Regions from separate parts of the Homo sapiens genome. Here region 1 is linked to region 2. A link means that fine-mapping ties the variant in region 2 to the expression of a gene that starts in the linked region. Tissue or cell type: whole blood. Region 2 holds a variant in brackets; the other region holds the start of a gene. All regions are shown on one strand. Distances are between the middles of the regions.

What was found. PIP is the estimated chance that this variant, and not a neighbour inherited with it, causes the effect. A credible set is the group of variants that fine-mapping cannot tell apart.
Region 1: it holds the start of CABP5, and the variant in region 2 is the best candidate, but not a certain one, in a credible set for the expression of CABP5 in whole blood (TOPMed, PIP 0.87).

What each region holds. Positions count from the first base shown.
Region 1 is chr19:48,041,704-48,047,080 of GRCh38, forward strand. It overlaps CABP5 (calcium binding protein 5), which reads right to left and starts at 2,376. Exons shown (of 6, transcript NM_019855.5): 1 at 2,157-2,376. The coding sequence starts at 2,219.
Region 2 is chr19:47,898,941-47,904,317 of GRCh38, forward strand. No RefSeq gene overlaps it. Among named protein-coding and RNA genes, the nearest start is that of SNAR-A12, 6.0 kb to the right of the region's middle. The variant G/A (reference allele first, on the strand shown) is at 2,268.

The DNA of each region.
Region 1 (5,377 bases), 140 kb after region 2:
CTCTTTCCATTCTCTCTCTCCTCCTCCATCCCTCCCATTCCTTTTCCCATCTCCTGACTCCTGTTCCACAGTTCTTGGCTCCCCACCCCCCTCTCGATGTCTCTCTCCCACCCACGAATCCCAATCTCCCTTTTTCTCCCTTTCTGAGACAAACACCCATCACATTGTGTCAAAGGGGGTCTTAAACACTGGGGAGTCCAATCTCCAGATGAAAAAAGTGAGACTTCACAACCACAGCTAACTCATTCAGAGTGGTGACTCTGTGCCAGGCAGTTTCCACAATCATTTCATTTAAACCTCAGTACTGCTCTGTGATGCAGATCTACATCTCGTTTCCATCTTACCCATGAGAAAGCTGAGGAACAGAGAGGTTAAGGAACCTGCACAAGGTCACACAGCTCACAAGCAGCAGATCCCCTCCCAAGGGAGGAAGGCATTCACCTGCTCCCTGGAGGTCATGGGGCAAGTCAGACACAGTATTGGGATTTGAATTCAGGGCTCCTGACTCCCAAGTCAGAATTCTTCACACTAGCCCCCATTCACTCCTTTCTCACCTGCCTCCAATCTTCCTGCCAAAGGTTAGAATCTCTGTGCATGGAAACAGCATTCAATGGCTTTCAGGCAGGAGGGTCAGTGCCAGCATGACCAGTTCCTAAACACTCTGAGAATGTCCAGTTATTGCTGCCCCACCTACTCCTGCACATACCTGAAGGGTTGGGCTTACATATACATGGCATGTTAACAAGGAAATTCTACTGACCTCTGGTCTCTTTAGCCTTCCCATCTCCCTTTATCCCTGGAGCCTTTCCCTCAGCTTCTCTTTCATCTGATCCCCTCCTTGCGGTCCCTTATCACCCTTTTTTTCATTCTCTCTCTCTTTTTTTTTTTTGAGACACAGTCTCGCTCTGTCACCCAAGCTGGAGTGCAGTGGCACGAACTCGGCTCACTGCAACCTCTGCCTCCCGGGTTCAAGCGATTCTCCTGCCTCAGCCTCCCGAGTAGCTGGGATTACAGGCGCCTGCCACTGCACCCGGCTAATTTTTGTATTTCTAATAGAGACAGGGTTTCACCATCTTGGCCAGGCTGGTCTTGACCTCCTGACCTCGTGATCCACCTGCTTTGGCCTCCCAAAGGGCTGGGATCACAGGCGTGAGCCACTGCCTGGCCTTTTTTATTCTCTTTTTTTGGTGATCTTAAAGCCTAACAATGAAAAGTATGCCCACATATCTGGACAAGTTGGTATATATGGAAAAATAAAAAAATTTTAAAAAGCATGCCCACAGGAATCAAGCAAACCCGACCCTGCCACTTACTTTTTTTTAACGAGACAAAGTCTCACTTTGTTGCCCAGGCTGGAGTGCAGTGGCATAATCAGGGCTCACTGCAGCCTCCACTTCCTGGGCTCAAGCGATCCTCCTGCCTCAGCCACCTGAGTAGCTGGGACTGCAGATGCATGCCACCATGCTGAGCTATTTTTTTGTATTTTTAGTAGAGATGGGGTCTTGTGTTTCCCAGGCTGGTCTCAAACTCCTGGACATAAGTGATCCTCCCGCCTCTGCCTCCCAAGATGCTGCGATTCAGGCATGAGCCACTATACTTGGCCGACCCTGCCACTTACTAACTGTGTAAGCTTAAGGCAAATGACTTCATGACTCAGAGCTTCACTTTCCTCACCTGTAAAATGGGAATGAAAGTCACTGACCTCATGAGTTGTTCTGAGGTGTAAATAACATCAGGTGTGCAAATCCCTTTGCACAGGGCTGGGCACAGAACAATGACTTAATAAGTGGCAGCTATTGTTATTAACGTCATCATTATCATCACCACCACCACCATCATCACCACCATTATCACAATGAGCATCCATAGAAAAGAATGATGGTAATCTCAACAATGACATCATCCCACTTTCCCTTTTCATTTTTCTTCCTTTTCTCTCCTTCTCTTTGCTCCTGACTTTTGATTTTACCCCCACCCATTTATCTCACTGGCTTACATGACCCCACCAGGGTCCTTGGAATTTCTTATACCTTCTCAGCTCCTGCTCTATCCACCTGTTCCCCTGGTTCTGTGGCACCATCATGTCCCCTTCTTTGTCCCACACCCCTGCTCCCTTTGCCCCGCCCACCGCCCTTCCCCCTCACTCCCCACCTCACCCGCTGTTTCTCAGCAATGCCTTTCCTCAAGAAGATGCAGGCGGGGCCCATGGGGAACTGCATGGAGGGGTGGGGTGGAGCTCGCAGGGCACCAGTCTCAAGATGGCCCCTCCTCCCTGCTCCCTGTCGGAGCTCAGCCTCCTTATCTTCTCCAGCACTCCTTTGCCACCTCTTCCTGCCTCTCTTGGCTTCTCCTTCGGTCCCGGTGTCTTAGAGCTGTGACAGCTGGGCTGGAAATCTCTACCCGGGTTGGGGAGGGACCAGAGCTGTCCCTGCCTCCCCATCTGGCTTGAATGATATGGGTGGGGAAATGCAGAGTCAGGTTCTGTGACGCCTTTATCCCCAGAGTGGAATTGGAAAGTGCATTTTATAAATGGGGATTAGAGGCTGGATGTGGTGCTCATGTCTGTAGTCCCAGCGCTTTGGGAGGCTGAGGTGGGAGGATTGCTTGAGCCCAGGAGTTTGAGACCAGCTGAGCAACATACGGAGAGGCTGTCTTTACAAAAAATAAAAAAATTAGCCGTGCATGGTGGCACACACCTGTAGTCCCAGCTGCTCCAAAGGCAGAGATGGGAGGATTGCTTGAGCCCAGGAGTTCAAGGCTGCAGTGAGCTATGATTGTACCATTGCACTCCAGGCTGCAGTGAACTACGATTGCACCATTGTACTCCAGCCTGGCTGACATAGTGAGACCCTGTCTCGAAAAAAAGAAAAAAAAAGAAAAAAAAGAAAAGAAAATGGAGGATTAGAGCAGACGGCATCATTTATTCAATGTTCCAACAAGCATGTGAAGGGTCACTCCAACACTGGCCTCTGGGCAGTGAGATGGAGAGCTCAGCACCCCTGGCCTCAGGGAGTTTTCCTGGGTGAGTCGGGAATGTGTGAGAGTGAGCAGGATGCAAGCATGGACTTCAGGAAGTGGGCGTACACGGTGACTAAGAGCATGGCATTTGCTCTTCCTCTGTTCATCTCTTTCCTTCTGTCTTTCCTGAATGATTTAGAGGGAAAAAGCAAGGTGGGGGTGTCAGGGAGGGTGTGAAGTTATGGTGGTGTCAAAGCCCAAAGGGGTTTTGCGACTCCACACTAGGTAGGGTTAGGGGAGGAGGGGGCTGGGGGCCATCTGGCGTGGAGAGCCAGCATTCCAGTGGGGTAGTGGGGTGAGGAGAAGTCCACATAGAGGGGCAGCATGACCCAGGGTGTTGGGGCTGGAGATGGTGGGGATAAATCCACAGATGGGCAGCTTGGTGTGCAGTGTTGGAACATGAGCTGAGTGGGGCGGGGGCATTTATATGCAGGCATTGTCTGGGGTGGAGGTTTGCACTGTAAGGCAATTAGGAAGGAGGCCACATAGAGGGGATCTGGCATGGGTTGTCATAACCCAAGCAGAGAGAGAAATGTCCACTCATGGGAATAGCATGGTGTATGGTGTTGAAGCCAGACTAGGCTGGGAAAGACATCCCCACAGGGGTGAAATGGCAAAGGAAAAGGGAAATTGGCTACACACAGTGAGTAAGGGGAATGGGGGCCAGGTCTCCTACTGTTGGAAAAGGGAGTTACTAAGACAGAAAGGAGGAAAGTCGAATGAGCCCTGTGGTGTTGGACTATAACTGGAGGCGTTGGTATGTCCTCATGGATCTCAATTATACATAGAGAGATAAAAATAAACACATAGTTTCAGTGTGTATAGGAACATTTGTACACATATTCTCTAGCTCTCTCCACTAAGAGAACATAGAAACAATGATGGCCCATATGAATGAGCACCACTAGCATCCAAATCTTGACTTCTATATACCATTCTCCACCAAATGGAACCAGAGTGCCTAGGAAATTTGGCTGATTCCATGTCTAGAGCAAAAAAAGAACAAGATGAGCCTACAAACGTCCTATGCTTAAAGCAAGAAATTGCTCAAAGTGTTGTGAGAACATGTGGAAAGAACACAGGAGTCTGCTTGAAGAAGCTCCATTGGCCATACTGGGCAGTTTGAGAGTCAAAATAAATAATGATAGTAACAAATTATACAGGACCACAGAAGAAACCAGGAGTCCATACTCAGATAAATAAAAAGCTAAGTGAGAAGTTTGATATTTACAGAGCTCAAAATACCTCCCTACAAAATACCAATTTCAAAGGAGTTACGTTATAGTGGAGAAACGTGGCAAACACCATCTTAGTCAATGAAAGTGGACATCATCAGTAATGTGACAAGTTGGAATTTCACACCACCTGACAGGATGTCACGAGAACAGCATCGCTTCTGTAAGATTCCTGAATCTCATCATAATCAGACGTCAGACGAACCCACATGGAGGGATGGTTTACAAAATAACTGGCCTGTAAGCTTCAAAAATGTCAAGGTCATGAAAATCAAGGAAAGATTGAGGAACCGTTCGAGATTGGAGGAGACTAAGAAGACATGGCCGAGGCTGGGCGCGATGGCTCACACCTGTAATCCCAGCAATTTGGGAGGCTGAGGTGGGCAGATCACCTGAGGTCAGGAGTTCGAGACCAGCCTAACCAACGTGGAGAAACCCCGTCTCTACTAAAAATACAAAAAAATTAGCCCGGCATGGTGGCACATGCCTGTAATCCCTGCTACTCGGGAGGCTGAGGCAGCAGAATCGCTTAAACCCAGGAGGCGGAGGTTGCAGTGAGCCCAAGATCGTGCCATTGCACTCCAGCCTGGGCAACAAGAGCAAAACTCTGTCCAAAAAAAAAAAAAAAAAAAAAAAAAAGCTACGACTGAATGCAACACAGAATTCTGAACAGGATCCTTCTGCTATCAAGGTCTTCTTTCGGATGACTGGTGGTTTGCTGGCAATAGTTTGGCGGCCCTTGGTCAGTAGAGCCTCACCCCAATCCCTGCTTCCATGTTCACATGGTTTCCTCTCTGTATACATGCCTGTCTCTGTCTTTAAATCCCCCCCCCTTTTTTAAAAGAATTTTATTTCAAATCTGGGATACATGTGCTGAACATGCAGGTTTATTACATAGGTATACATGTGCCATGCTGGTTTGCTGCACCAATCAACCCGTCACCTAGGTATTAAGCCCTGCATGCATTAGGTATTTGTCATAATGCTCTCCCTCCCCTAAATCCCCCCTTTTCTTTCCTTTTTTTTTTTTTTTTTTTTTTTTTTTTGAGACAGAGTCTTCACTCTGTCACCAGGCTGGAGTGCAGTGGCATGATTTGGCTCACTGCAAGCTCCACCTCCTGGGT
Region 2 (5,377 bases):
CACGCCCCTCCCCCCACAGTGTCTATTCCGGTTCAAGCATGCCTACTGAAACACTAATTTAAGTCCTTTAATTTCTACCGGTTGACCCTGATGATGTCTGTGATGTTTAGACTTTTGTGTCAGCTTGGCTAGCCTGCAGTACGCAGTTTTTTGTTTTTTTTTAACAGAATCTTGCCCTGTCGTCCAGGCTGGAGTGCAGTGGCACAATCTCAGCTCACTGCAACCTCTGCCACCCGGGTTCAAGCAATTCTCCTGCCTCAGCCTCCTGAGTAGCTGGGATTACAGGTGCCCGCCACCACACCCGGCTAATTTTTGTATTTTTAGTAGAGACGGGGTTTCACCATGTTGGCCAGGCTGGTCCTGAACTCCTGACCTCAGGTGATCCACCTGCCTCAGCCTCCCAGGCATGAGCCACTGTGCCCGGCCCAGTACCCACTTGTTTAATCAAATGCTAGCCTAGGTGTTGCTGTGACAGTATTTCGTAGACACAGTTAACATCTACAATCAGTTGATTTTAAATAAAGGAGATGAATGGCGATAACCTGGGTGGGCCCAAGCTAATCAGTTGAAGGCCTTAAGAACATAAAGAGGTTTCCTGTAGAAGAAATTCTGCCTGAAGACTGCAGCATCAAATCCTCTCTAAGCTTCCAAACTTCCAGCGTGCCCTACAGATTTTGGACTTGCCAGCCTCTACAACTGCATGAGTCAATTTCGTCAATTTCTTTACTCCTCCCTGCCGTGTTTTTTTTTTTTTTGAAACAGAGTCTCGCTCTGTCGCCCAGGCTAGAGTGCAGTGGCACGATCTCAGCTCACTGCAACCTCCGCCTTCTGGGTTCAAGCGATTCTTGTGCCTCAGCCTCCCAAGTAGCTGGGATTACAGGCGTGCGCCACCATGCCCAGCTAATTTTTGTGTTTTTAGTAGAGACGGGGTTTCCCCATACTGGCCAGGCTGGTCTTGAACTCTTGACCTCATGCAATCCACCCACCTCTGCCTCCTAAAGTGTTGGGATTACAGGCATGAGCCGCCGTACCCAGCCCAATTTCTTGAAATCAATCACTTTCCTGTTGATTCTGTTTCCCTGGAGAGTGCTAACTGTCCCCTTATCCTATGCCACAGATTTACTCTTCTGATCCTTTCATTTATTTGATACTCGGTGAATTATACGAACACTAACTATGGGCTGGGCCCCATCTTGTCCAATAATTTCCCCTCTGCATATAAGCCCAGACTCAATTTAAGATCCCTAAAACATGCACCAGTGCCCAGATGTCCTTAATGGAGCTAAGGTTTCAGGCTATTGAAGATGTTAGGAAGGGAGGACAGAAACCAAACACAGTAAGTTCTCAACACAGAATTCAGAATTTCTCTCTTATTCTATATGATTGTTCTTCTGACTACATATATACCTTTTGTGACAAAATACGAACACCTTTGGAGATTAAGTGCTTAACCAGTGGGATTGCTTCATATATCATTATCTGTAGCCTCACTCCCTCAATTATTTCTTTCTTTTTTTTTTTTTTTTTTTTTTGAGACAGGGTGTTGCTCTGTCACCCAGGCTGGAGTGCAGTGGCAGGATCTCGGCTCACTGCAACCTCTGCCTCCCGGGTTCAAGCGATTCTCCTGCCTCAACCTCCCGAGTAGCTGGGACTACGGGCATACGCCACCATGCCCGGCTAATTTTTTTTTTTTTTTGTAAAAAGAGAGGGGGTTTCACCATGTTGGCCAGGTTGGTCTTGAACTCCTGACCTCAAATGATCTGCCTGCCTCGGCCTCCCAAAGTGCTGAGGTTACAGGCGTGAGCCACCGTGCCCAGCCATCTACTCTTAAGTTTGGTTGAAGTTTGTTTATATATTGTTAGGTTACAGTTTGCCACATAAGGAGGCAGCTTTAGGCCAAATTTCACTTAATTTAAACAACTGGTTTTCTCAATGCTGCAGTGAGGTGAGGGCAGAAAGGCTTGAGCGCTTGATGTGTCGGGAGGGAAATATCTTCACTAACATAGAACAACCTGAAATTTCAATGGATCACATCTGAGAAATGAATCTGAGGTTGAGTTGAAATCAAATATATAAAGTCAGGTAGGAGTGAGGACAAAATGCCAATACTTGATGTTTCATAAATGCTTTCATACATACCAGGGAACTATTATTATCTCTATTTTAGAGTTAAAAAAGGGGGTGTTCAGAGTGGTTAATCATTTTACGAAGTCATGTAGCTCCTAAGTGGCAGAGCTGGGATTTGATCCCAGGCACTTTCATTCCAA[G/A]TCTGTGTTTGTAATCTGTGACTTATGGTCCCCAAAAGATACGTTCACGTCCCAACCTCTGGAACCTACCAATGTGACCTTATTTGGAAAAAGGGTCTTTGCAGATGGCATCAAGTGAAGAATCTCAAGATGAGAGTATCATTAATTACCTGGTGGGCCTTAAATCCAATAACAAGTATCCTTATGAGATAAAAAAGAGGAGAAGACACAGGCACACAGAGTAGAAGGCCACATGAAGTTGGAGGCAGAGACTGGAGTGTTGCAGCCATAAGCCACCGAAGGTCTGCAGCCACCAGGCGCTGGAAGAGACCAGGAAGGATCCTTCCCCAGAGCCTCCAGAGGGAATGTGGCCTGACCGATACCTTGATTTTGGACTTCTGGCCTCCAGCACTGTGAGAGAATAACCCACGATAGTGTGGTGGTTTGCTCTGGCAGGCACAGGAAGCTAATACAGTGCTCTTTAGTTCTACATGGCCCCGCTTCCTCCAGAGCTACGTGGGCCTTCCCTATTAGTTGATGTTCATCAGTTCTATTGCACAAAGCTGAAGATGTCCAACAACGGTACTCAAATCCCACACATCCTTGGGGACCTTGAGGGTTCTAGGCTCTCTAAGGTAAGGTGCCTGTTAGGGAGGACAGAATCCAGAAACAGTGAGTTCGTTTTTTTTTCTTTTCTTTTTCTGTTTTTTTTGAGAGGGAGTTTCACTCTTATTGCCTGGCTGGAGTGCAATGGCAAGATCTCGGCTCACTGCAACCTCCGCCTTCCGGGTTCAAGCAATTCTCCTGCCTCAGCCTCCCGAGTAGCTGGAATTACAGGCATGTGTCACCACTCCAGGCTAATTTTGTATTTTTAGTAGAGATGGGGTTTCACCATGTTGGCCAGGCTGGTCTCCAACTCCTGACCTCAGGTGATCCAACTGCCTCGGCCTCCCAAAGTGCTGGGATTACAGGCGTGAACCACTGCGCCCAGCCAACAGTGAGTTTTTAATACAGAACCCAGAACTTCTCTCCCATTCTGTACTCTTCTCTAACCATATAAACAAAAATTAATAAGCCAAACGTTTGTGGTGGGGCATGGTAGCTCACGCCTGTAATCCCAGCACTTTGGGAGGCCGAGGCGGGTGGATCACGAGGCCAGGAGTTCAAGACCAGCCTGGCCAAGATGGTGAAACCCCGTCTCTACTGAAAATACAGAAATTAGCTGGGCGTGGTGGCAGGCTCCTGTAATCCCAGCTACTCCAGAGGCTGAGGCAGGAGAATTGCTTGAACTCGGAGGGCGGAGGTTGAAGTGAGCCGAGATTGTGCCACTGCAATCCAGCCTGGGTGACAGAGTGAGACTCTGTTACACACACAAAAAAAAACAAAAAACAAAACAACAAACAAACGTTTGCATCTGAAAGAAATCTGCATACTTTTGTATCATTTTCGTTGATATTTCTCTCAGGTTCATCAATCTTGCCAGAAGATCTGCAGAATCTGCAGATATTCTTACTAGAGAAGCCGCAGTGAGTGTGAACATTTCAGCCGGGGATGGGAGGAAGGAAAAGCAGTCCTGGGGACATTTTTTGCTCCAGGGGACCAGTGATGCTCCATTAAGTGGCACTTGCAGATCAAGTTCTGTTTCTGCTTTGAACAGAATGTTCAGGCACCCGAGAGATAGAACAAAGTGCTGAACTCCGTTCTTCACGTCATTAACCTTAATGACCTTCAGACAGTTCCCATCCATACACAGAGTCCTACAGATTTTTGAGATCCAAAAGGTTATTTTACTATTGTCTTACCAAATTTCTAGGGGACTTGTCTTTAGAATTAGGTAGCGGCTATGTGAATCTTCCAGGGGTAAAGGTCCTCTGCTTCCTCACAGGGATTCTCCCACAATCCCTTCCTGCATGCCACAAACACAGCATGTCCCTTTCCCCTCAATCCCTGCACCTTCCAGGCAACATTTAATGCACCTTTTTTTTTTTTTGAGACAGAGTCTCACCCAGGCTGGAGTGCAGTGGTGCGATCTCGGCTCACTGCAACCTCCGCCTCCTGGGTACAAGTGATTCTTCTGCCTCAGCCTCTTGAGTAGCTGGGACTATAGGCACATGCCACCACGCCTGGCTAATTTTTCTATTTTTAGTAGAGACGGGGTTTCACCACATTGGCCAGGCTGGTCTACAACTCCTAACCCCATGATCTGCCCACCTTGCCCTCCCAAAGTGCTGGGATTACAGGCATGAGACACCGCGCCTGGCCTTTTTTTTTTTTTTTTTCTTTTTTTTTAGGACAGAGTCTCACCCAGGTTGGAGTGCAGTGACACGATCTCTGTTCACTGCAACCTCCGCCTCCCGGGTTCAAGCGATTCCCCTGCCTCAGCCTCCTGAACAGCTGGGATTACAGGCACCCGTCCCCATGCCCGGGTAATTTTTGTATATTTAGTAGAGATGGGGTTTCACCATGTTGGCCAGGCTGGTCTCGAACTCCTTACCTCAAGTGATCCATCCGCCTCAGCCTCCCAAAGTGCTGGGATTACAGGCGTGAGCCAGTGCGCCCGGCTTCTTGAATTAGTTTCTAGGAGAAGCCAAGAACCCCCCCGGGCTAAGCCTCAATTTTGGGGCTCGCCTGTGCTGCATCAGCTTCACACCTAGAGAAGAGAGTGAAAGAGAAGGGAGAGCCGTCCTTTTGGGCTGCCTTGAAATAAAGGTTGACCCATGGGTTCATGTATTGTCATTCATTCTCATTTTCTCTTCCTCTCTTTCTCTCTCTCCCCTGCCCCTTAAGTTAGCTTTTCTAAACCCTACCTGGATAAGGATAAGAAATAGAAGGAGGGGACACTTTAGGATGCTACAAAATAAAATACAACAACAACAACAATAACAGCAGCAGCAACAACAAAACAGCAACAAAAGGGGAAGAAACAAATCTGGCCACTGCACATTCCTCCTTGGCAACAAAAAGCCGTGGATGCAAAAAGCTGCCCTTCACTGCATAGACAGAACAGGGCGCGCTCGAGCTATGAATCTCGGAAATTACTCAAACCATCAGCCTCTGCAAGAAGCAAAGTGGACGGCCGGGCGCGGTGGCTCACTCCTGGAATCCCAGCACTTTGGGAGCCCGAGGTGGGC